Linked DNA regions of Homo sapiens. The protein of the gene in region 1 interacts with the protein of each later gene in a biochemical or structural test. Each region holds a gene or a part of one and is shown in the gene's direction. Other genes may lie near its edges. The genes, in order: RRP7A and UTP23.

Region 1 (11,677 bases):
TGCGTCTCCCCAACGAAAACTCTTAGCAAGTCTGACTTACAGACCACTAGAAACCCGATCGGGACCCAGAAACCCCACTCCCAGGTATTCACCCAAGAGAAGTGAAAACTTCCATTCATACAAACACCTGTGCGTGAATGTTACAGCAGCTTATTCATAATCGTCGAAACCTGGAAATCGCCCACATCCTTTACTTGGTGAATAGATAAATAGACCACACTCCATCCAGACAGTGGAACATTTCTCAGCAATGAAAAGGAACCATACAACAATGTGGGTGAACCTCAAATCACGATGCTCAGTGAAAGAACCTGGACTCGCACGATTCCACTTTCAGGACTCGCTGGAAAAGCAACGGGAGAACAGAGCAGTGGTTGCCAGCGGCAGCACGGGAGTTCTGGGAGTGACGGGATGTTCCCTATCTTGACTGTGGTCATGGTGATAGGACTCTATGCATTTGAACTATATACCAAAAGAAGTGAATTTTACTGTGTGGACATTTGAAAGTATTTTTTAACCATTAAAAAAGAAAAATTGAGGCTGGGCACAGTGGCTTATGCCTGTAATACCAGCACTTTGGGAGGCCGAGGCGGGCGGATCACAAGGTCAAGAGATCGAGACCATCATGGCCAACATGGTGAAACCCTGTCTCTACTAAAAATACAAAAAGTAGCCGGGCGTGGTGGCGGGTGCCTGTAGTCCCAGCTACTCAGGAGGCTGAGGCAGGAGAATGGTGTGAACCCGGGAGGCGGAGCTTGCAGTGAGCCGAGATCACACCATTGCACTCCAGCCTGGGTGACAGAGTGAGACTCCATCTCAAAAAAAAAAAAAAGTGACTTCAATTTTTCCTTCTCCTCCTCTTGGCTTGTAAAAGGGTTACCCCTGCGTGGCTTCAGAGTGTTTAAAATCGCTTACCTCCTCTTGAGGAGGTTTAACATTCTTTCCTTTTTTGAGACAGAGTCTTGTTCTGTCACCCAGGCTGGAGTGCAATGGCTTAATCTCGGCCCACTGCCACCTCCACCTCCCGGGTTCAAGGGATTCTCTTGCCTCAGCCTCCCAAGTAGCTGGGATTACAGGTGTGCATCACCACACTCAGCCAATTTTTGTATTTTTGGTAGAGACGGGGTTTCATCATGTTGCCCAGTCTGGTCTCAAACTCCTGGACTGAAACGATCCACCCACCTCAGCCTCCCAAAGTGCTGAGATTACAAGTGTGAGCCACTGCGCCAGGCCTCAATATTCTTTCTAATAAGCTCACTTGGGTTCTTATTCAGTGTATTCCTTTTCCCAGGCTGCTGTAACAAAATAATATAAACTGGGTGGCTTAAGACAACAGAAATTGATTTCTGGAGGTGAGAAGTCCAACACCAAGGTGTCGGCAGGGCTGTGCTCCCTCTGAAGGTTCTAGGGAAGAATCCTCCCTCACTTCCTCCGGCGTCCAGTGGCCACAGGCATCCCTTGGCTTATAGCCTCACCACTGCCATCTCTGCCTCCATCTTCCTATGGCCCTCTTTCCTGTGTGTGTCTCCTAGGCATCTTATAAGGACACCAGCCATTGGACAAAGAGCCCACCCTAAATCCAAGATGATTTTATCTTGAGTTGAAAGGACCTGATTACATTTGCAAAGACCCTGTTTCCATATTCAGGTCACATTCACAGGAATGGAAGAGTGGTGGGGGAAGGGAGAGGTTAATACTTGAACATGGCTGGGCGCGGTGGCTCACGCCTGTAATCCTAGCACTTTGGGAGGCTGAGGCGGGCAGATCACGAGGTCAGGAGATCGAGACCATCCTGGCTAACACGTGAAACCCCCGTCTCTACTAAAAATACAAAAATTAGGCCGGGCGCGGTGGCTCACGCCTGTAATTCCAGCACTTTGGGAGGCCAAGGCAGGTGGATCACGAGGTCAGGAGATCGAGATCATCCTGGCTAACATGGTGAAACCCCGTCTCTACTAAAAATACAAAAAATTAGCCAGGCGTGGTGGTGGGCGCCTGTAGTCCCAGCTACTCAGGAGGCTGAGGCAGGAGAATTGCGTGAACCCGGGAGGCGGAGCTCTCAGTGAGCCGAGATCGCGCCACTGCACTTCAGCCTGGGCAACAGAGCAAGACTCCATCTCAAAAAAAAAAAAAAAAATACAAAAATTAGCCAGGCGTGGTGGCGCACGCCTGTAGTCCCAGCTACTCGGGAGGCTGAGGCAGGAGAATCACTTGAACCCGGGAGGTGGAGGCTGCAGCAAGCCAAGATCGCCCACTGCACACCAGCCCGGGAGACAGTGTGAGACTTCATCTCAAAAAAAACATACTTCAACATGTCTCTTGGGGAGCACAATTCAACCTCTATATTCGGTAAGACTCTCTTAGACAGGGCAGGGCAACCTGGCCCTGCACTCCTTGGCCATCCTCTGCTGTCACCCCCAGACCTCAGGCACGGCGGCCCCTCGCTCTCCCCCGTCTTTTCTCTCCGGGCCTCTGAAGTCACCAGTTCTCCATGCCCAGCCGTGGCCTGTGGGAGGGAGCTGGGGGGGTGAGCTGGAGCTGCCACTTAGCGGCAGAGTCGCAAACTCACCGTTCCTAATGAAGCCCGTCGCTTCTCCCTCCTCCTCCTCCCAGCAAGCAGGAAAAAAAAAAAAAGTTGACTACTGAGACCACATGCTAGGAAATCCATGGGTGGGTGCTCTAGTTGACAAGTCCCACTTGAGCCCAGCCATATTCGGCCATTCTTGCACTGCTATGAAGAAATACCTGAGACTGGGGAATTTATAAAGCCAAGACGTTGAATTGGTTCTGCAGGCTGTACGGGAAGCATGGCTGCATCTGCTTCTGGGGAGGCCTCAGGGAGCTTTGACTCATGGTGGAAGGCGAAGTGTGAGGGGTCACTTCACATGGTGAAAGCCTGACCAACAAAGTGGGGGGTGAAGCAGCCACCCATTTTTAAACAAACAGATCTCGCGAGAACTCGCGATCGCAAAGACGCAAAGACGGCGCCAAGCCATGAGGCCCCCATGATCCAAACACTTCCCACCAGGCCCCACCTCTAGCACTGGGGATTACAATTTAACATGCGATTTGGGCGGAGACAAATACTCAAACTCTATCACCAGCCATCCCTGCTGAGATGCCGGACTCATCTGCTGAGATGCTGCGATGTGAGTGAAGTGACTTGGAACCTTTAGTGCAGCCCATATGCCAGCTGAATACCATCAAATGCCCTCAGTCAGTGCCACAGGGAGAAACAAAATCTCCTAGCAGAGCATTGCCCAAATTCCTGACCCATGAAATACATGGGCAGTGGTAATTATAAAGAAAGTGGAGTTAATTGATCGAGTGGCATCAGTGGGCTGAAGGAAGAAAACAACAGGCCTCAGGACAGCCATTTATCAACTTATAGCCCAAGGTGAAAATCAGGAGGGGCTTCCAGAGACGTGTTTAAAGACAGGTCACATTGTGCTGATAAAGGCCTAGAACCTGATGAGAACTGTGGAGTTTGAATCAGGGCAGATGAACGGCTGTGCTAAGTGCTGTGCTCCAGTCAAGGAGCACAGAAGTGAAGGAGCGGACACTGTCACCTAGGGCAGGGAACGTCTGGATAGATGGGCTCAAGAGTCTTGAATTCTAGGCTGGGTGCAGTGGCTCACACCTGTAATCTCAGCACTTTGGGAGGCCGAGGTGGGCAGATCATCTGAGGTCAGGAGATCAAGACCAGCCTGGCCAACATGGTAAACCCTGTCTCTACTAAAAATACAAAAAAGTAGCTGGGTGTGGTGGCACATGCCTGTAATCCCAGCTACTTGGGAGGCTGAGGCAGGAGAATTGCTTGAACCCGGGAGGTGGAGGTTGCAGTAAGCTGAGATGGCAGCACTGCACTCCAGCCTGGGTGTCAGCAGAGTGAGACTCCGTCTCAAAAAAAAAAAAAAAAAAAAAAAAAAAAGGCTTATGCCTGTAATCCCAGCACTTTGGGAAGCCGAGGTGGGCGGATCACAAGGCCAAGAGATCGAGACTATCCTGGCCAATATGGCGAAGCTCTGTGTCTATCAAAAATAAGAAATTTAGCTGGTCATGGTGGTGCACACCTGTAATCCCAGCTACTCAGGAGGCTGATGCAGGAGAATTGCTTGAACCCAGGAGGCGGAGGTTGCAGTGAGCGGAGATCGCGCCACTGCACTCCAGCCTGGCGACACAGCGAGACTCCATCTCAAAAAAAAAAAAAAAAAAGTGATGTTGTGTGGCCAGTCCTGATATCCATCGAGATGGCTCCTTGAAGCGTGGAAGCAATACATGAGAGGGAGATAACAGAACGATGGTGGCAGGGCACTGAGAAGGAGCCAAAGGCCTCGGGGAGGGGGATGTGCAGGCACAGATTTATTATGCAACATCTGAGAAGCCAGATGACCGTATTTCTGGAGGGTTCACCAGAGACTGCTTTGACTAGTGGGGGGTCTAGGCATCAATGGGCAATCGGCATGGCCGTCCTCTGAGGCCAGGGTAGAAGAGGGCAAATAGGACTGGAGCCGGGCTCGGAAAGGTCAGCAGGAGATAGGATTCCAGAGAGCAGAGGTTCGGTTGATGTGACTGTCAGAACAGGAGCAAGGCCAGAGTGGCTGCCAGGGATCCTGGGCGCACAGGAGTCTCTGGTGAATGCTAGTAGACCACGGTATTCCCAGGGGCCACGGAAGCCCCAACACTGCTTGACTGCGCTAAGCAAAGAAAGATCAAAAACAAAAAACGAGCGAACAGGACAGTAATGGCAGCTGCTGATGGAAAATCCCAACCCCTCATCCAGTTTCCAGGCCTAAGCTAGGCCTCAGAACCAGAGGTCACTGACTGAAAGGGAGGCTGGGTCCCCTCCAGACCACAAATATTTGCAGTAGTAGGCTCCTAATCTTTCCCCAAAGGGGCCGACAGCATTTCCAAGAAGCAACTGTACACTGGGAAAAGAGAAATAGTAGATACATCAAGGGCTGGCGGGTACACAGTCTGAGAGGCCCTTTGGAGTCCAGAAAAGTGGAGTCCTTGGACTTCATTTCTCCCCTATCTACACTTGCTCCCTTGGCGATCACACCCTCTCATAACTTTCTTTTTTTTTCTCTTTCTTTTTTTTTTGAGACAGAGTCTCGCTCTGTTGCCCAGGCTGGATTGCAGTGGGGCGATCTTGGCTAACTGCAATCTCCGCCTCCTGGGTTCAAGCGATTCTCCTGCCTCAGCCTCCCGAGTAGCTGGAATTACAGGCATGCACTACCACGCCCGGCTACTTTTTGTACCTAGTAGACACGGGGTTTCACCATGTTGGCCAGGCTGGTCTGGAACTCCTGACCTCAAGTGATCCGCCCCCCTCGGCCTCCCAAATTGCTGGGATTACAGGCATGAATCACCGCACCCGGCTCCTCTCGTAACTGTCAATAACCTATCCATGGCCAGTCCCGTGTGTATTGCTCCAGGCCTGACATCTCTGATGTTCAGTCTGTTCAGTCTCATATCTAAGTGCCCACCTGACATGTCCCCTGAGTGGCCTAATGGGCATCTCACCACGGCTCACAGAGAACTGATCTACTCCATTTTCACCCCCAAGCAGGCCCCTCTCCTGCAGTCTTCCCATCTCAGTCAATGGCAACACCATCCTCTTAGTTGCTCAGACTGAAAACCTAGCAGCCATCCTGGATTTCTCTCACACTGCCTATTCAACGTGTGAATGCATGAGTGGAAAGCTGAGTTCGCACTCGTGACTGGCCGGGGTCAACTCTGACATTCGCTCCCACTTTCGCGCGCTGATTTATCTCTGAGCGGATGAAGGTTGGGCCATGGCGGGCGGGGCCGGGGAGGCGGGCTTGGAGTGAGGGGGCGGGGCAGGCGCCACGAAAACGCGCTCGCGCCGGCGCCGAACCGCAACTCCCGGCGGCCCCCGCGCTCCCGGGTGGCAAGATGGTGGCGCGCAGGAGGAAGTGCGCCGCGCGGGACCCGGAGGACCGTATCCCCAGCCCACTGGGCTACGCAGGTGAGGGGCTCCGGGACGCGAGACCGGGGGCGGTCAGGCATCGCCGGGAGGTGTTTGGGGGTTGGCGACGGCCGGGGGTCCCCAGGAGCGGCCGCACGGTTGGGTGTGAGCCCCGGTGGCCCGTGGCCCCAGGCTCCGCAGGTCTTGAGGCTCCGGGGTCCCGAGGACCCAGGCGGCGCCCTTCTGCCTGCTCACTCTCCCGGGGCGAGCCCAACTTGGTCCACGCTTCCCTTGGGTGAGCCCGCCTCTGTCCACACTCTCACCCAGGACAAACCCATTTCCGTCCACACCCGCTCGTCCAGGTGAGCCCATCCCCTTCTCATCGCCTCTGCTCCTAGTCCATCCCCCATCAGCTCTTACCTGGGCTGTTATAGGCCCTCCTACTCGGTTGCCCTCCTTCTCCTCTTGCCCCTGCTTCTGTTCTCCACCCACGTGCCAGAATGTTCTTTTAAGGACATTTAGATTCGATCATGTCTGCCGCGCCCACGATAGGCGCCACACCTACTGCATTCCCTCCAGTGGCTTTATCAGGTAGCTTCTAAAACAAAAACCAGACTTCTTAACCTGTGTGGGCCACGTGGTCTGGCTGGTGCCGACCTAAAGCTCTTTCTGTTCCTCTGAGGGAACATGCTTTTTCCCCCCTCTGGGTTTTTGCACGTGCTGTGCCGGTTTGTTGCACAGTGGCGTTCTGGCCTGAGCTTTAATGTTGCTTCCTCAAAGAGGCCATCCGTGATGGCCTATGGAAAGAAGACCTCTGCCACCCCATCACCCTGTAATGTTTCTTTCACAATTGATACAAGTTTGCTGTATGCTTGTTAATTGTCTTCTCCGTTATTGCAACTGAGCTTCCTGAGTTCAGGGACCGCAGCTCTACGCCAACCGGTACTGTGACGGAGGTGTGAGAAAAATAGAAGCAGTTCCTAGCTTTATGAGGATTACAGTCATGGGTGTGCCAGCGATTAACCAAAGAATCTCATCAATATAGCCTCCAGACTGTTAAGAGAAGCTGTGAAGGCACAGGCAGTGGGATCTGAGCTGGCAGGAGGGGCGGAGGTGATGCTAAGGCTCTCCTGAGGAAGCGAGGTTTGAGCTAAACCTGAGGTGAGCGGGAGGGAAGAGGGTGACACGCCAGGTAGAGAGGCCAGCATGTGTGAGGCCCTGGTGTACCCGGGGGAACAGAGAATCCAAGGTGCTGGGGGAAGATGGTACGAGAAGAGGTCACAGTGACAGGCAGGGTCTCACGGGGCTTCCAGCCATGGTTAGGATTTTGGCGTTGACTCCAAGAGCCGCAGGGTTCGAGCTTCCCTCTCATTGCGCCCCCATCTGTAATCATTGCCCATTTATCTTCTCTCTCCCTGCACCGCCTTGGGAGGCCCTCCTGGGCAGACTCTTAGAGCCCGCACAGGCTTTGCCAAAGAGTAGGGTAAGGGGGGTTGGTGAAGGGATGGATGGATCGATGAACAGATAGGACTAGACAGGGATGTGGAGAAAGGAAGTTGTGTGAGTGTCTCGCTGGCCTCAGCTCAGGGTAGCCTGGCCATCCCTCCCCTCCCATTTCCTTTCCAGCTATTCCAATCAAGTTCTCTGAAAAGCAACAGGCTTCTCACTACCTCTATGTGAGAGCACACGGCGTTCGACAAGGCACCAAGTCCACCTGGCCTCAGAAGAGGACTCTTTTTGTCCTCAATGTGCCCCCATACTGCACAGAGGTGAGCTAGTGTCTGTCTGGGAGGAGACCTGTGGGCTCAAGGTGGGGGCTCCCATGGCCTCCACCAAGTCCTTGGTGGTGAGACGGACACAGCTAATGGGAGCCCCAGAGGAGAGTGTCAGGAGGGCTACCGTGATCTCCAGTCAGGAAACTGGCTTTTTAAAGATGTCTTTAAAAGTATAATCCTGCCAGGCACGGTGGCTCATGCCTGTAATCCCAGCACTTTGGGAGGCTGAGGCGGGCGGATCACCTGAAGGGAGGAGTTCCAGACCAGCCTAGCCAACATGGTGAAATCCCGTCTCTACTAAAAAATAAAAAATGAGCCAGGCATGATGGCATGTGTGGGTAGTCCTGGCTACTAGGGAAGCTGAGGCATGAGAATCCCTTGAACCCGGGAGGTGTAGGTTGCAGTGAGCCAAGATCGCGCCACTGCACTCCAGCCTGGGCAACAGAGTGAGACTCTGACTCAAAAAAAAGAGAAAAAAGTACAATCCTAAGTAGCCCAAGGCATTTTTACATATTACCCAAAGTTGTCTGAATTACGTGTTTTCTTCCAGATTGTACATGTCCATAATTTAAAAGTAGGAAAGTATAAGAAAATAAAAAGTGCCTCTAATTCTATCCAAACACAACTGTTAATTTTTTTTTTTTTTTTTTTTTTTTACAAAAACTAAGCTAAGGGAATTGCTGGATTTATTTATTTATTTATTTATTTAATTTATTTATTTATTTTGAGACAGAGTCTCCCTCTGTTGCTCAGGCTGGAGCACAGCGTTCACAACTCACTGCAACCTCCGCTTCCCGGGTTCAAGTGATTCTCCTGCCGCAGCCTCCCAAGCAGCTGGAATTACAGGCGCCCACCACCATGCCCGGCTCATTTTTGTATTGTTAGTATAGACAAGGTTTCACCATGTTGGCCAGGCTGGTCTCGAACTGCTGACCTGAAGTAATCCGCCCCCTTCAGCCTCCCAACGTGCTGGGATTACATGCGTGAGCCACCGCCCCTGGCCAAGGGAATTGCTGGATTTGTTTTCAAAAAAGAAACCCTAATTTGTAAAAGATTCCTCTAAACTTAGAGAAAAAAAGAAGCATGTAGAAGAGGGGGTGTGAGTTCTGACCTTTTTTGAAGTGCAGCATGTGTGCCTGGAAGGGCCCCAGTGGCAAGTGTCCAGCTCGCTGCATCCCAGAGACAGAACATAGCTGTGTAGTCAGCGCCCAGGTGGAGACACAGCAGCACATCCCAGAACCCCCGCTGCCTCCACCACAGACAACCACCATCCCAACTGTCATAGCATAGGGTCACTACTGCTGATTCAGGTAGTAAAACTTGTCATAGGAAATCAGAATAACAGCAAGAATGTCCCCACCTGTCTCCAGTGAGAGAGCAGGAATATGCCGGGCACAGTGGCTCACGCCTGTAATCCCAGCATTTTGGGAGGCCGAGGCGGGCGGATCACCTGAGGTCAGGAGTTCAAGACCAGCCTGGCCAACGTGGCAGAACCCTGTCTCTTCTCAAAATACAAAAATTAGCCACGTGTGGTGGTGGTGGGCGCTTGTAATCCCAGCTGCTCGGGAGACTGAGGCATGAGAATCACTTGCAACCCGAAGGTGGAGGTTGCAGGACTCCAGCCTGGGCTACAGAGCAATACTCCAACTCAAAAAAAAAAAAGAGCAGGAATATCAACCTCCATATTGTCCCTGGGGAACAGGTCGGAGGCCATGGTGCCCACAGTCTCCCGGCTTGGGCAGATGTGGCTGTGGCTGAGTCCTTCAGCGGCGCTGGACCCCTGGCAGCGCCACCCATGGTGCAGGGAGGCTTTGGGATGGCCCTGCGGATGCTCACACTTGGCTTCCCTCTCCCTGCGGCAGGAGAGCCTGTCCCGCCTCCTGTCCACCTGTGGCCTCGTCCAGTCTGTAGAGTTGCAGGAGAAGCCGGACCTGGCTGAGAGCCCAAAGGAGTCAAGGTCGAAGTTTTTTCATCCCAAGCCAGTTCCGGTGAGCCGCCAAGCCCGGGGTTCCACTAGAGTGAGGGGGGTGGGGCACTGTCCCCAGTGTGTTGGGGGAGCTGGCAGTGGGACATCAGAGCATTCTCTGGTCCTGAGCCCATCCTCACCGTGTGTGGTGTAAGAGACTGTCTGGGTGACAAAGCCTGCGATTCTTTGCCAGATTTGCCACATCCTTGCACTTCCTGCCTGGCTTTTTCTGTCCCGTGTTAAAGCTCACGGACCGTCTCTGCTGGCCACCTGCAGGGCCTTCCCCGGCTCCCCTCCTGCTTCCCCACTGAGGGAGCTCCTTCCCCAGGCTTGGGGGCCGGGTCTCCAGGAGCACTGTTGTTCACAGCTTTCCCAGTGGCCCTGGAGCCCACACCTCCTCCCCACACAGTGGCATCTGGCATGGTGTGTGCGCCCAGGCCTGGCTTCCAAAAACCTGCCCTGGCCCAGGGCGACCCCTGTGTTTCACCGCATCCCTCCCGTGACTGGAAGAAAAGAAGCCTCTGTATCCCCTCTTCCTGGGGAGGAGTTGGGAACAGCCGTCACTTCCCGCAGAAGCAGGATTACTGGAAGTGTGGCTGCCTCTGACCTGGATTATGGGATGGCCTGTGGTTCTCTTCATGGCTCAGGAATAGCCTAGCACCATCTCCCCTGGTGTAGCTACCACCTAGGCTGAGGGCAGGCCTGGAGACCTTGTGCCAGACGTGGGAAGGAGCCCCCAACCTCTGACATCTCTCTCTCTTCAGGGTTTCCAGGTAGCCTATGTGGTGTTCCAGAAGCCAAGTGGGGTGTCAGCGGCCTTGGCCCTGAAGGGCCCCCTGCTGGTGTCCACAGAGAGCCACCCTGTGAAGAGTGGCATTCACAGTTAGTACTGCGGGAGGGGTCTGGCGCCTCCTTTCTGGGCTCCGGGTTGGCAGGACACTCTATGGGGACAGTGTCTGAATGTCACAAGCCAAGTCCATGCTCCCTGAGAGCAGCATGTGGAGGCCTGGGCAGGAGGACCATGGGGCTGTGTCTGGGTCCCCAGGGAGTCATTAGCCTGAGCCCCTGGCACAGAGCGGCACAGGCATACTGGGCAGGCAGAGCGAGGGCGCAGCTTGCAGCCCCTGGGATCTCCTTAGCACCTGTGCCCCGGGCCCTGTGGGAAAAGGTCCCAATTTGCCTGGCAGGCCCTGGGGTGGGGCCCAAATGCCAGGCCTGAGGAAGCCCCGTTTCCCTGGCTCCCTTTTCCTCAGAGTGGATCAGTGACTACGCAGACTCTGTGCCCGACCCTGAGGCCCTGAGGGTGGAAGTGGACACGTTCATGGAGGCATATGACCAGAAGATCGCTGAGGTAGAGGCCCCGCGGGGTCGGCCGAGCCCCGCATCGCCCGTGTGGCTGTGGGAAGGTGGCGCCCCAGAGGGAGGGCAGTGGTGGCCTGTCCTTGGCCACTCTGTAGAGGCCAGGCTCCCTGTTTCCCTGCTGGATCCTGGGCTGCCTGGCTGGGTGACACATGTAGTCTCCACATGTCCTACAGTGGAGAAGGAGGCAGTGCCGGCAGGTCCGTGCCCTCCCCGCCATCCTTAGCCCCAACACTGTGCTGGGAGGAGGGGAGCAGCCCTCCCCTGCGGGGGCTCAGGGCAGTTCTGACTTTGGGAGGAGGGCGTGGAGGGCGCGCTGCTGGAGGCTGCAGGAGGTCCCACCGGAGGATGGGATCACCTTCCTTGCAGGAAGAAGCTAAGGCCAAGGAGGAGGAGGGGGTCCCTGACGAGGAGGGCTGGGTGAAGGTGACCCGCCGGGGCCGGCGGCCTGTGCTCCCCCGGACTGAGGCAGCCAGCTTGCGGGTGCTGGAGAGGGAGAGACGGAAGCGCAGCCGAAAAGAGCTGCTCAACTTCTACGCCTGGCAGCATCGAGAGAGCAAGATGGAGCGTAAGCCACCCCCAGTCCATCCTCAGACCCCTCGGCCTTGGCCCCAGCCACGGATGAGGCCTGTGGCCAGTGCTCCT
Region 2 (12,011 bases), on another chromosome or scaffold:
GGCCTCGAACTCCTGGGCTCAAGTGATCCTCCTACCTTGGTTTCCCAAAGGGCTAGGATTATGGGTGCGAGCCACCATGCTCAGCCTGCCAATTTAAATTATTTTAAACAAGAGGGAAATATATGCTATCATGGATCTGGATGTCTAGAGAAGGGCATACTCCAAGTGAAGCAGCATAAAGACTACAGTTTCATTACTTCATGACTCTCTGGACTCTGTCTCCTGCCATGTTTGGGTTCTGACCAAAGACTGGCTACCACTATAATCTCAAGCTCACAGTAGCAATTGAAACAATACACTTTTTGTTTTGTTTATTTTAAGGAAACCTCTCCCCCAGTCATAGAAAAAAGATCTTGCTCATTAGCCTCATTGAGATCAATTTAAGTCATAGGCCTCCTTTTGTCTACAAATGTGAAATAAGACTATGGGAGGTTATACTTTGAAGAGCTAGGTAATTTGTTCAGTGTTATGAAAGAAACTACAGAGAGTATAAAGTTGGAGCCAATAAAAAGAAAATAATATTCATTTACACATAAGAATTAGCATGTGGTCATTTTCTGTATGTTTGCTAAAATAATAATAATTTTTAAAATGACATTGGACTTTTCATCCCAGTATTTTGATTCATCACTTACCAACTAATATTTAAACAAAGTAATCTTGCAGTAAAAAAAAATTTGAGAGGATTGTAAGAGTGACTTTTATTTTGTATAATATCATGTAATTAATACTTCATATTGGTGTAATTCAATTATAAATACTAGACTTTGAAATAATATTCTACTGGATTATTGAAAGCATGTTTAATTTCTTGCCACCAGGAGTTCAGTTTCTGCCCTGAGTCCTCCTGCTGCTTAAAAATATATACAAAACCATGAGTGAAAGAGTTGGCTTCAACATTTTGTTAAATATAAATAGTGTTTTTTAGAAAATCCTTTTAAAGCTGTAATCTGACATAATTTCCAATCTTTAAACTTCTTTAAGTAACAGTAATAATATTTGGTTACCTAGAGTAATTTTATAAAGATTCATTAATCTTCTAAAGTGCTTTGATAGATTAAAATGAAAGACCCATTTAGTGTGAACTTCTCTATCAGTTTGAATAATAATTAAATTTCAAATGGCAGTTTGCTTTGCATTACAGTAAAACATGTTTGCCACTGGTACTATTTCTTAACTTTTTGCTCTGCTCTACCAGTTTTTATTTTCACCATTTAAATTAATGCCATTAAACATTTTGTAGTAAAATGCCAATGGAGAGCACTATTTAAATCTGTTAGAGACGGGCTGGGTGAGGTGGCTCACACCTGTAATCCCAGCACTTTAGGAGGCCAAGGTGGGCAGATCTCTTGAGGTCAGGAGTTTGAGACCAGCCTGGACAACATGGTGAAAACCTGTTTCTACTAAAAATACAAAAATCAGCCAGGCGTGGTGGTGGGCACCTGTAATCCCAGCTACTCAGGAGGCTGAGGCAAGAGAATCGCGTGAACCCGGGAGGCAGAGGTTGCAGTGAGGCGAGATTGCACCACTGCACTCCAGCCTGGGCAACAGAGTGAGACTCTGTCTCAAAAAAATAAATACATACATACATACATACATCTGTTAGAGAAATAATAAATTTCTTTCAATTTACCTAACATGGTAGTATTTGTTCTAAGTATGATTTCATCCAAATAAATTATTACAGAAAGCAAACTTGCTAGTCTAATTTTATAGTGATCCGACAATAGTCATCTGATAACTGATGATGGGCACTTCCTGTTTACTGTCTAGTTTAGAAATATCCTCGAGAAACAGAAATCTCTTGAAATCTTTTTCTAAGAGACAGCTTCTCCTTTGTCATTTGACCTGAAAGAAGAGCTCACTGATACTGGCAGGACCTATATACATGAATTCCGCTTGCTTTCTTTAACTGACAACTGGATGACACTAACATTTCCTTGATGTTCCTTACCCAAGCAGCTGGGGCTCTTCATATTTAACTAACTTTTCTCAACAGGAGATATATCCCACTGACACACCAAATTCAAATCAAATTGTTTATACTTTCAAGAGAAACAAATGTCAAGACAGTTTCTATAGTATGTAAAGAAAGATTTGGTTTATTTAACTTGGAAGACTTTCCACCTTTTAGAGGAAACATATAAACTAGTATTTTGAACCTGTTCAAAGGAAGGGCAATTGTATTGACTGACATCAGCTAACATCAAGGTCTCATCAAACATATTTGTTCATATAAAATTATCTAATTCTGGCAAGTAGTTTTAACTTCCTCTATCATTTAGCATTGAGTTTGGCTACATATAAAATAAACTTATGATAACTTTTTTTTAAAACCAAGGTAGAAGTTTATTTTTCTTCTCATGTAAAAGAAATCCAGAAGTAGAAAGTCTATGTTTGGAAAGACACTTTCACAGTTGCGAGCGATCCAAGCTCCTCTTATCTGCTTTGCCAGTGTTAAGTGAATGACCTCCATTCTCAAAATTACCTCATGGTCTAAAATCGGTTGCTGGAGTTAAAGCTATCACATCCAAATTCCAGGGAGTAGGAAGGAAGGAGATATAAAACACAAAAGTGCCCACTGCCAAGCTAAGTTGACTTCCTTTAAGCCGGCTTCCCAGAATTCCATGCAACACTTACACTTACATATCTTTGGCTAGAACTTAATCCTGTGGTTCTACCTAACTGCACAGAATGCTGGGGAATGGGCTGGCTGCTGTGGCTCACGCCTGTAATCCCAGCACTTTGGGAGGCCAAGGTGAGCGGACCATTTGAGGTCAGGAGTTCGAGACCAGCCTGGCCAGCCTGGCCAGCATAGTGAAACCCGGTCCCTACTTAAATATACAAAAATTAGCCGGGCATGGTGGCCTATGCCTGTAATCCCAGCTACTTAGAAGGCTGAGGCAGGAGAATCGCTTGAACCCAGGAGGTGGAGGCTGCAGTGAGCCAAGATTGTGCCACTGCACTCCACCATAGGCAACAGAGCGAGACTCCGTCTCAAAAAGAAAAGGAAAAAAAAAGAATTCTGGGGAATGGATTTGCTTATCTGGGCACATTACACTCCAGAATAAAATCAGGAGTCTATTCCTACAAAGAAGAGAAGAGATATTGGGTGAAAATTCATAGTCTGTGTCATATCTATTATGTTATATTTGGTGGTTTTGTGAGAAATGTCATGCAGCCATTAAAAATAATGAATGAGAACTCTGCCAATTGACTTTGGGTAGATGTGTGTAGGGATTTCTACAGGATTGTTAGGTGAGAAAAGCAAAATGTATAGAATTGTTAAATATGATTCAATTTCGCATAACAGAGTATCTCTACATAAATATTAAATTGTATATATATGCATATGATATATCAATATGTAAATATGGAAACATTGCCAAGAGATACATAATACATCATCAAAGTGTTATCTGGGCAAGGGGAGAAGAAATTACTATCTTCATGTTCTTCCACTTGTTTTAAGAGGCATATGTTATTTTTGTAATTTGAAATACATAAAGTTTTTGTTATTTTATTTTATTTTAAAGATTATTTTAAAAAGTGACAGCCTCCATATCTGACCTTTGTAACACCTTCTGACATATTTGAAATTTCACAGTAAGGCATTCCATGATGGAGCCTATCCTAGGGGATCTTAGCGAAGAACCTCATAGGACCTCAATACAAAGTGCTTTACCTAAGTTGTCGTAAAATATTTATTTAGCTAAATTATTTATTTAGGCAGTATGTTAGATAATGTTAGGTAGAAATTGTTTTTGAGCTAATGAATGTTAACAAATGTTTATAAATATTTAGATATGAATATAAGGAAGAATAATACCACAATAGATATGTTAGCTAAATTGTCTAACATTTACGAAATTAAACAAAATTATACTAACATTGATGAAATTCAACAAAGTAACCTTTATGAATTATATTTAATGTTTACCTCTTTAATTCCATTTAGGCCATGAATCTTTCATGAGAAAGTCCTATTTGGGAATTAGTCATACGTTTCAAAAATAAATTATTCTCATGTCAACTTGGCTTCATCAAAATTTCATGAAGAAAAAAACTTCAAAATCATGTACAACAGCATAATATTATAAAACTATATTTGATCCAGACATAATAAAATGAAGAACATAAAAAATAAAGAAAAATAAATTAATCGCCTACTTACTCCAGCTGAATGTGGATTTCTATTTGGCATGGAAAATGTCCAGTGGACTGACCTGAGAAAAAAGCTAAAAACTAGCAATGCTGTTATAAATTATTGTTCCTTCAGTATAAGGTCAAAAAAATTTCAATGAATATTAAATATTTTAATAATGACATAACTTTCAAAATAAAATTTCAGATTTAAATTTATATCCAAATGGTTCACTCAATAATGGCAGTATTTGGCTTCTGCCTTGGTTGTGGCTAAATATTGATTTTCCATTACAGATCATTTGGCATCTAAACAAAAGTGTATTAAGTGGACCAATTAATAAAAATATCTTATTGGATAAACGATGCTTTATTACAAAAAAGGTCCTTCAGGAACACTAATGAGCATAATAATGATTTGGGGAGATTGTAATAAATGTCACTTCCTCTTTGAATAGTACCCCTCTCCCTCAATACTTATTCTGAATCAGAAATGGGCATTTTAAACAAGCACACTAAGAGCTTTTTCTGCATATCCCAGGACCTTGTTTTGAGAAACACTGCTGTAATAGAAAACTCTATTTTTTTCTCTTTTTGTCTTCTTTTAATTTAGCAGAGACAGGGGCTCCCTATTTTGCCCAGGCTGGTTTCCAACTCCTGGGCTCAAGTGATCCTCCCGCCTCGGGCTCCCGAAGTTCTGGTATTACAGGCATGAGCCACCATGCCCGGCCGAAAACTTTGTTTTAAACTTGATAATCACCATTATAGACCATCTTCATGTTTTCATAATAAAGATAGGGTGCAAACTGGCACTGTCATATACATAGAGCTTGGGGAAAAAATGTGCTGTAGCTTGGTAAATTAAAAAACGACAACAAAAACTAAGATAAGACTAAAATCCCTAGTGCTGCACCACATTTTTCTTAGTACTGAAAAGTGGCCAAGGAGCTGGTAGATAAATCTGAGGCTATTTAAGAAAAAATGTTTTAACTGTTTTGCAAGACTCAGGTGGTATCTCGTTTCTCTGTCTGTGGTGGGCGCATAGTTGGAGTAGAGAGTTGGCATACAGGGATAAAAAGAGGATTCAAATTGAAAAGTACTGAGCAATTACACTCAAAGACCTTGAATCCAACCCTGCAAAAGTTTTCATGGCTTCCAATTCCTAAATTCATTTTAAGTTTAAATGAAAGCAACCATCTAAGTGATGTGCTGGGACTCAGATCAGGGCTAACATTATAGATCTTATTCCAATTTCATAAACCTACATATTGAAATAAAACCCCAAATGCAAACAATGCATTCAATCACGTTGTAAATCATTTTCTGTGCTGGTTCTTTCAATCTTTAGCCAAAACTAGATCTGGGACAGATTCCAGGCAAGGACAAAAATGCAAAATTCCATACTCCCCATTCTTTGATTATTTTACCTTGAAGTGGATACTCGACAGTTAGCCACGGGAGAACTTGAAATTTTCTGATTCATTCTCCTCATTAATCAAATTGACCAAGTAATTTTTAAACCTCCAGTCAGCTTTGTGCCTTCCTGTTACTGGCCCAGTATGTAGTCTTCCTATGTCAGAGACCATGCACATAAAAAGAGTACTTGAAACTTATCTAGACCTACAACCAGTTTGACAGTGAGGAAGTTGAACCCAGCTTTCTTCGGGAGTTGCCCAAGATCAAACGGCTTGGGTTTGTGGCAAAACCAGGACTCAAGGTTAGGAATTCTGACTCTAGGCAAACGAAGCTCTTGAGAGTTCTTCCAAAACACTCCATGCGAGTGATTTAGGATGGTCCTAAGGCAGGAGGAAATGCAAAATGGTGGCACCCTTTGCCCTGACAAATGGTTCCTGAGTGACGTTAGTTTCTATGGTGGTGTAGCAAGAACATTTGAACTTCAGGCACGAAAACTGGGTTCCAGACACTAACAAACTACGTGCCCTTCGTGAACGTGCTTAATTTCTTTATGGGAAAGCAGCCAGTACAAACCTCCCCACTCATAGCTATCCAATATATCATTTCCTTCTTTCACTTGGGAATTATAAACATTCAGGGGAATAATGTAAGGTAAATCACTTAGGACAGTGTCTGGAACATATTAAGGCTCAATATTATCACTGACTACTACTATACTGCCAGTCTTTCAGAGAAGCTCTTGCTACGCGCCTCTAAAACGTAGGTAACACGCTAAATGTATTCTCGTAATTTTCTTTTACCGTGGCCCCAGACTGCGCATGTGCGCCCCCGTGCGGAATCGCGCACCCCAGCGGTTTTCCAGCGTACGCACAAGTTCCGCCCTAAGGGACCGCCCCTTTAAGCGCGGGCACTGCGGTGGAAGCGCGCGCTGGTCTGGACATGACGTAAACCAATGGGCAGGCCCGGAAGACAGAGGCGTTTGCTTCCGTGGCCAAAGGCGCTTCATTTCCGGGTGAAACTGGCATTGAGGGTACTGGGGCGTGCGTGAGGCGTTTACTGATGCTTCCTGGTCCGGTGGCCTCGGTCCCGGTAAGCCAGGCATGAAGATCACAAGGCAGAAACATGCCAAGAAGCATCTTGGCTTCTTCCGCAACAACTTCGGAGTCCGCGAGCCGTACCAGATCCTGCTGGACGGCACCTTCTGTCAGGCGGCGCTGCGGGGCCGCATCCAGCTGCGGGAGCAGCTGCCCCGCTACCTCATGGGGGAGACGCAGCTGTGCACCACAAGGTGGGCCCGGGGGGCTGGGGAGGAGGCACAGAGGGTCCGTCGGGTGTTGTAGAGGCGAGGCCGTTGCTCACAGACCTTCATTGCGAGCTCAGGAGGTGCAAAACGCCCCGCCCACGTGGAGTTGACAGTTAAGTGGAGAGGTGAAGGTGGTCAGGCGAATACCTATAATAGAGGCAGATTGGACAGTGCCCTGTGAATATCACGTGTCGTTAGCCTGGCGAATGAGAGCACATTATAGCAGAGAGATCCGACTTCGAATCTTGATCCCAGTTCTACCAGCTCTGTGATTTCTGTCAAGTTATTTAGCCTCTCTGAGCCTCGGATTCCTCATTTGTAAAATAAAGATGATAACTGCTTAGAAGATTGCTGTAAGCTCAAACGAGTATAGTGTACTAGAGCATTTTTCGGTATCCAAAGTGTACCCGTCTTCAAATGGTTGCTGTCATTTGCATAGCTTTTCTTAGTTTAAACCAAAACTCTGCAAGCCTCACAGTGAACCTGTGAGTTACCATCTTTGATGTCCAGGGCAAAAAGTCAGTACTTGAGATTAAGGAATCTGCCCAAGCACATTTGTTTATTCAACTCGCTTTATTAAGTACCTCCTATATGCCACATACTGCTCCCTCATGGCCAGTAAAGTGCATAAGTCAGTCTGCAGTGTGTGTTTTCACTCTAGGTCTGATGTTTCCCCACTTCATTGAAATGTGGGAACACTTAGGATGGAAGCTTGTCGGGATGAAGAGGAGAGAGGAGAGAATTGTGACAGATTTCAGATAACATTTGAGCCCATTCACTTGTTCAGTTCTGAGAGGAAGAACTATTTTGAATGACAGAAAAGAATGACACTTCTTGTTGTGGAGACCTCTTCACACGAAATGGAGTTATGAAATGCCTGGGAAAGAGGTTGCAGCACAGAATATATTTGGGAGTGAAACTAGGAAGAAGGCAAATTGAGGCTAGGCCATGAAGAACTATTAAGAAATTTAGTAGTTTTTTCATTGTAGAATATTTACTTTTAAAAAGCAAAAAAAGAAAATTAAAATGACTCATAATACCACTACTCACGAATAATCACTGTTAACATGTGCAGTGTCATCCATCCAGTTCTTTATACACACTCACACAAGCACAAGAATGGACTTTTAAGCCAGGCAAGGTGGCTCACACTTGTAATCCTAGTAGCTACACAGGAGGCTGAGACAGGAGGGTTGCCTGAGTCTAGGAGTTTGAGGTGAGCCTGAGCAACGTAGGAAACCCCCATCTCTAACTACAGCCATAACAAAGTATGGGCTTTTTCTGTGTATACTGTGTTAATAGTCTCCTTTTCCTCACATACGATTACTTAATGAACAGCTATCTGTATTTGTTCAGAATTTCTCAAGCAGGGTCTCGGCTGGGTTACAGATACCCCCAAAGTTTTGATCCCCTTAGTCTTTAGGGCTGTCTAACAAATCCTTCAGTAGTCTTTGCTCCTGAATTGATTGCTTTTGTCTACAAGCAATTTGTCCATATACTCCTGTGTGCCATAGAAATATTAACATTTTAAATATAGTGCTATGATATTAAAAAGGTTGAGAAGTGCCACATAAAATTATATTCTACAGCAATTTTTCTAACAAATTTATTTTAACTCTGGAATTTTTCAGACAACTCAAAGGTAGAATAATATAATGAAACCTCTCTCCAGCTTTTGCAGTTATTAACATGGCCAATCTTGTTGAATCCCTCACCTCTCCTTACTGATGGGTTGCTTTGGAGCATATTATTTATCACTTCTTTGGCATGTATCTTGAAAAGATAAAGAAGGCTTTTAAAAATCAGTATTCAAACTAAATACATATATTACATTTGATTTATATGTCACTTAAGTTTTTTAAAAAAATTTATTTTTGAGATGGAGTCTCACTTTATTGCCCAGGCTGGAGTGCAGTGGTGCGATCATGGCTCACTGCAGCCTCCGCCTCCCGGGTTCAAGTGATTTCCCTACATCAGCCTCCCAAGTAGCTGAGATTACAGATGTGTGACACCACGTCCTACTAATTTTTGTATTTTTTAGCAGAGACAATGTTTCACCACGTTGACCAGGCTCGTCTTGAACTCCTGACCGCAGGTGATCCACCCACCTCGGCCCCCAAAGCATGGGGATTACAGGCATGAGCCACCATGCCAGGCAGTTTTTAAAAATTTTGGCAGTTTCCCCTCCCTTTAAATTTTGCAATTTATGTTTTTAAGAAATCAGGTCATTCGTTTTTCAGTGGAATATATTTCTTGGCCACTAGTAGTTAGGTCTCTACAGAGTTTACTGATATTCAGGTTTGAAGATGTGTGGAGTTAATTGATGAAGTAGAACAGCAGAATGTTATCAGGCCTGGGTTTTATTTTAGAAAAGATAACTGCAGTGATGTGAAGGGTAAATTGGAGAAACAAGAGAGCAAAGGCATGAATCTGTTTTGCGGTTGTTTAATCAAGAAGTAAGGGGAGCCTAAACCTGGGAGAGGAAAGGCAGGAACCCAAGGGTTCTCCAAAGAAACGCTACGTTACTGAGATAGATAGGTTGAGCAGCTGATGGCATAGGAGTATGGGTGAAGAAGGGCAGGAAGGTCAAATGTGATTTCTGATTTCTATCTAGGGTGTCTGGGAAAATAGTAATTTCAAAGAGATAGCAAGTCTTGGAGGATAAATTTGGATACAGGAAAGTGGTTTGATCTTAGACATGGTGAATTTGAAGAGTTGATAGCAGGACATCCACAGGCTGGCAGTACTCAAAATAGAGGTCAAGTCTAATGACTAAAGCAAGCAAAATCTTCTTGAAACAGAAAGATGATAAAGGAGATGAAGCAAGAAAGAATCTGGCAAATGCTGGCTAGGGTTGAGGAACTCTTATGACTAAATGTTTTTTTAAAAACAACTTGATGATGTGAGAAGTTTTACTGTTCTGAATTGAAAATGTTTTGAAAGTATACCAATTTGTACTTGAAGCAGAAGCTTATTACGCTATGGTTGGGACAAGGGAGCTGTTGTCAAACTGCAAGTCTCGGTACCACTTGCTAGTTACTTGAACTTTGGCATGTTACTTGAAATCTCAGAATGGGGTGCTCTAAAATAAGGATAATTTCAAGGTAAGCGACCTAACTTCATAGGGTTACTTTGAGATTAATCAAGAATTTATGTAAAGAGCAATTTGCATACTACATGGAACATAATAAGTGCTCAGTTAATTTTAACTGTTGTTCTTCCTACTTGGTAAATGCATTTTTCAAGTGATCTTTTAAAGTAAATGGTTACCAGATGACAAATTTAGATTGTAACAGCATAGTTTTATTTTAAGAAAAAATCGACTATTGTTTTTTACACCTTATGTAAACAAGTGAAATGTATCTGCTATAATTTTTCTTTTCAGATGTGTGTTAAAAGAGCTAGAAACATTGGGAAAGGACTTATATGGGGCAAAACTGATTGCACAAAAATGCCAAGTTCGAAATTGTCCTCATTTCAAGAATGCAGTGAGTGGATCAGAATGTCTGCTTTCCATGGTTGAAGAGGGAAATCCTCATCATTATTTTGTGGCAACACAGGTGATACTACTTTTAAAACCACAGGCAATTTTCACCATTTCTATTTATACTTCATATGGAGCTATTTATAATCAGAAAAAAGTTAGAATGATTAGACTTTTAAAAATACAGGCTTCTAAGTTAATTTGCAGTCAGTAAAAGCAATTGTCATTTGAGAATTTGAGGAAAACTTTAAGCATGTTGATATTCTTTTTAGTAGTGGAAGGTTGGGTTTTGTTTTTTTTAATGATTCCTTTGTTTTGCTTTTTTTGTTTGTTTCTTGAGACTTGAGGGTCTCACTATATTGCCTAGGCTGGTCTCGAACCCCTAGGCTAAAGTGATCCTTCCACCTCAGCTCCTGAGTACCTGGGATTACAGGTGTTTGCCATCATGCTGGACACTGGCAGAAGTTTCTTTTTTTAAAACAAGAAATTGTTGACATGAGATGTGATGATTTGTTGTAGGGTTCTTGAAGGGAAGATAAGTAGAGCAAAGTGCCTGTATTCTGTTAATTTTTTTCATGTTCCTGTATTTCATACTGTTTCTCAAAGTCATGGTTCATACTGCTTAAGACTGTACCAACAGTATGAAATATTTCAGGCTTTTGAAGAAAAATATTCCCATCTTCTTGAAGGCAGGAGAAGAGAGACTTTTGGGGGTGATATTAAGTTCACATACATACAGATTTGATTATCAGAATTATAAAATTACACAGAGGTAGAGCTGAATTTAGAATCTGAGTAGCTAATTACTACCCAGTTTCTTTTCCTTTAACCTCTTTAAGCATTCTTGACCCTTTCCAAAGAATATCTTAGAGTGGAAACAGGAGAAACCCACCTAACACATTTACCTTTGCATTAGTTTGTAATTTGTGGCTCTAGAGTATCGATAAATCCGGTTCACACAGCTGCTACTAACACTGTGCTCAGTTTTTATGTTTTTCTTCCTTTATCATGAAATATACCCCCATTACTCAAATGAATAAGTGAGGCTTACTCATTTGAAAAATAAAATCTGTGATCTCTTTTATTTTTAATACAGTTCTTGAAAACCTATTTAAGGTACCTTAATTGACATTTGAACTAAATAATTCTGTTTTCTTTTAAATAGGATCAGAATTTGTCTGTGAAAGTAAAAAAGAAGCCTGGAGTTCCTCTCATGTTTATTATTCAGAACACTATGGTTTTGGACAAACCTTCTCCCAAAACAATTGCCTTTGTAAAAGCAGTGGAGTCAGGTCAGCTTGTCTCAGTGCATGAGAAAGAAAGTATCAAACATCTCAAAGAGGAACAGGGTTTAGTGAAAAACACTGAACAGAGTAGAAGAAAAAAGCGCAAGAAAATAAGTGGTCCCAATCCTCTTAGTTGTTTGAAGAAAAAGAAAAAGGCACCGGACACACAATCATCTGCTTCTGAAAAGAAAAGAAAAAGAAAAAGAATTCGGAACAGATCTAACCCAAAAGTACTTTCTGAGAAGCAGAATGCAGAAGGAGAATGAATCCTTTGGATACTTTCAAGGACATTCAAATGTGAAAATGAATTTTTTACAACTAGAAGTATTTATAATAAAAGACCAAACTTATTTTTGTAAATGAACCCATATGCTTTAGC

The links.
Region 2: the proteins of RRP7A (region 1) and UTP23 form a complex in vitro, tested with the Homo sapiens proteins (one study listed by BioGRID).

Annotation. Positions count from the first base shown.
Region 1 is NC_000022.11:42,514,029-42,525,705, reverse strand, and holds the start of RRP7A (ribosomal RNA-processing protein 7 homolog A), read left to right. Parts: upstream 1-5,909; 5' UTR 5,910-5,919; coding exon 5,920-5,992; intron 5,993-6,352; exon of another isoform or gene 6,353-7,290; intron 7,291-7,558; coding exon 7,559-7,701; intron 7,702-9,569; coding exon 9,570-9,695; intron 9,696-10,437; coding exon 10,438-10,555; intron 10,556-10,926; coding exon 10,927-11,024; intron 11,025-11,401; coding exon 11,402-11,600; intron 11,601-11,677. UniProt on the Homo sapiens protein: Nucleolar protein that is involved in ribosomal RNA (rRNA) processing. Also plays a role in primary cilia resorption, and cell cycle progression in neurogenesis and neocortex development.
Region 2 is NC_000008.11:116,759,945-116,771,955, forward strand, and holds the start of UTP23 (rRNA-processing protein UTP23 homolog), read left to right. Parts: upstream 1-6,579; 5' UTR 6,580-6,659; coding exon 6,660-6,847; intron 6,848-10,247; coding exon 10,248-10,422; intron 10,423-11,511; coding exon 11,512-11,898; 3' UTR 11,899-12,011. UniProt on the Homo sapiens protein: Involved in rRNA-processing and ribosome biogenesis.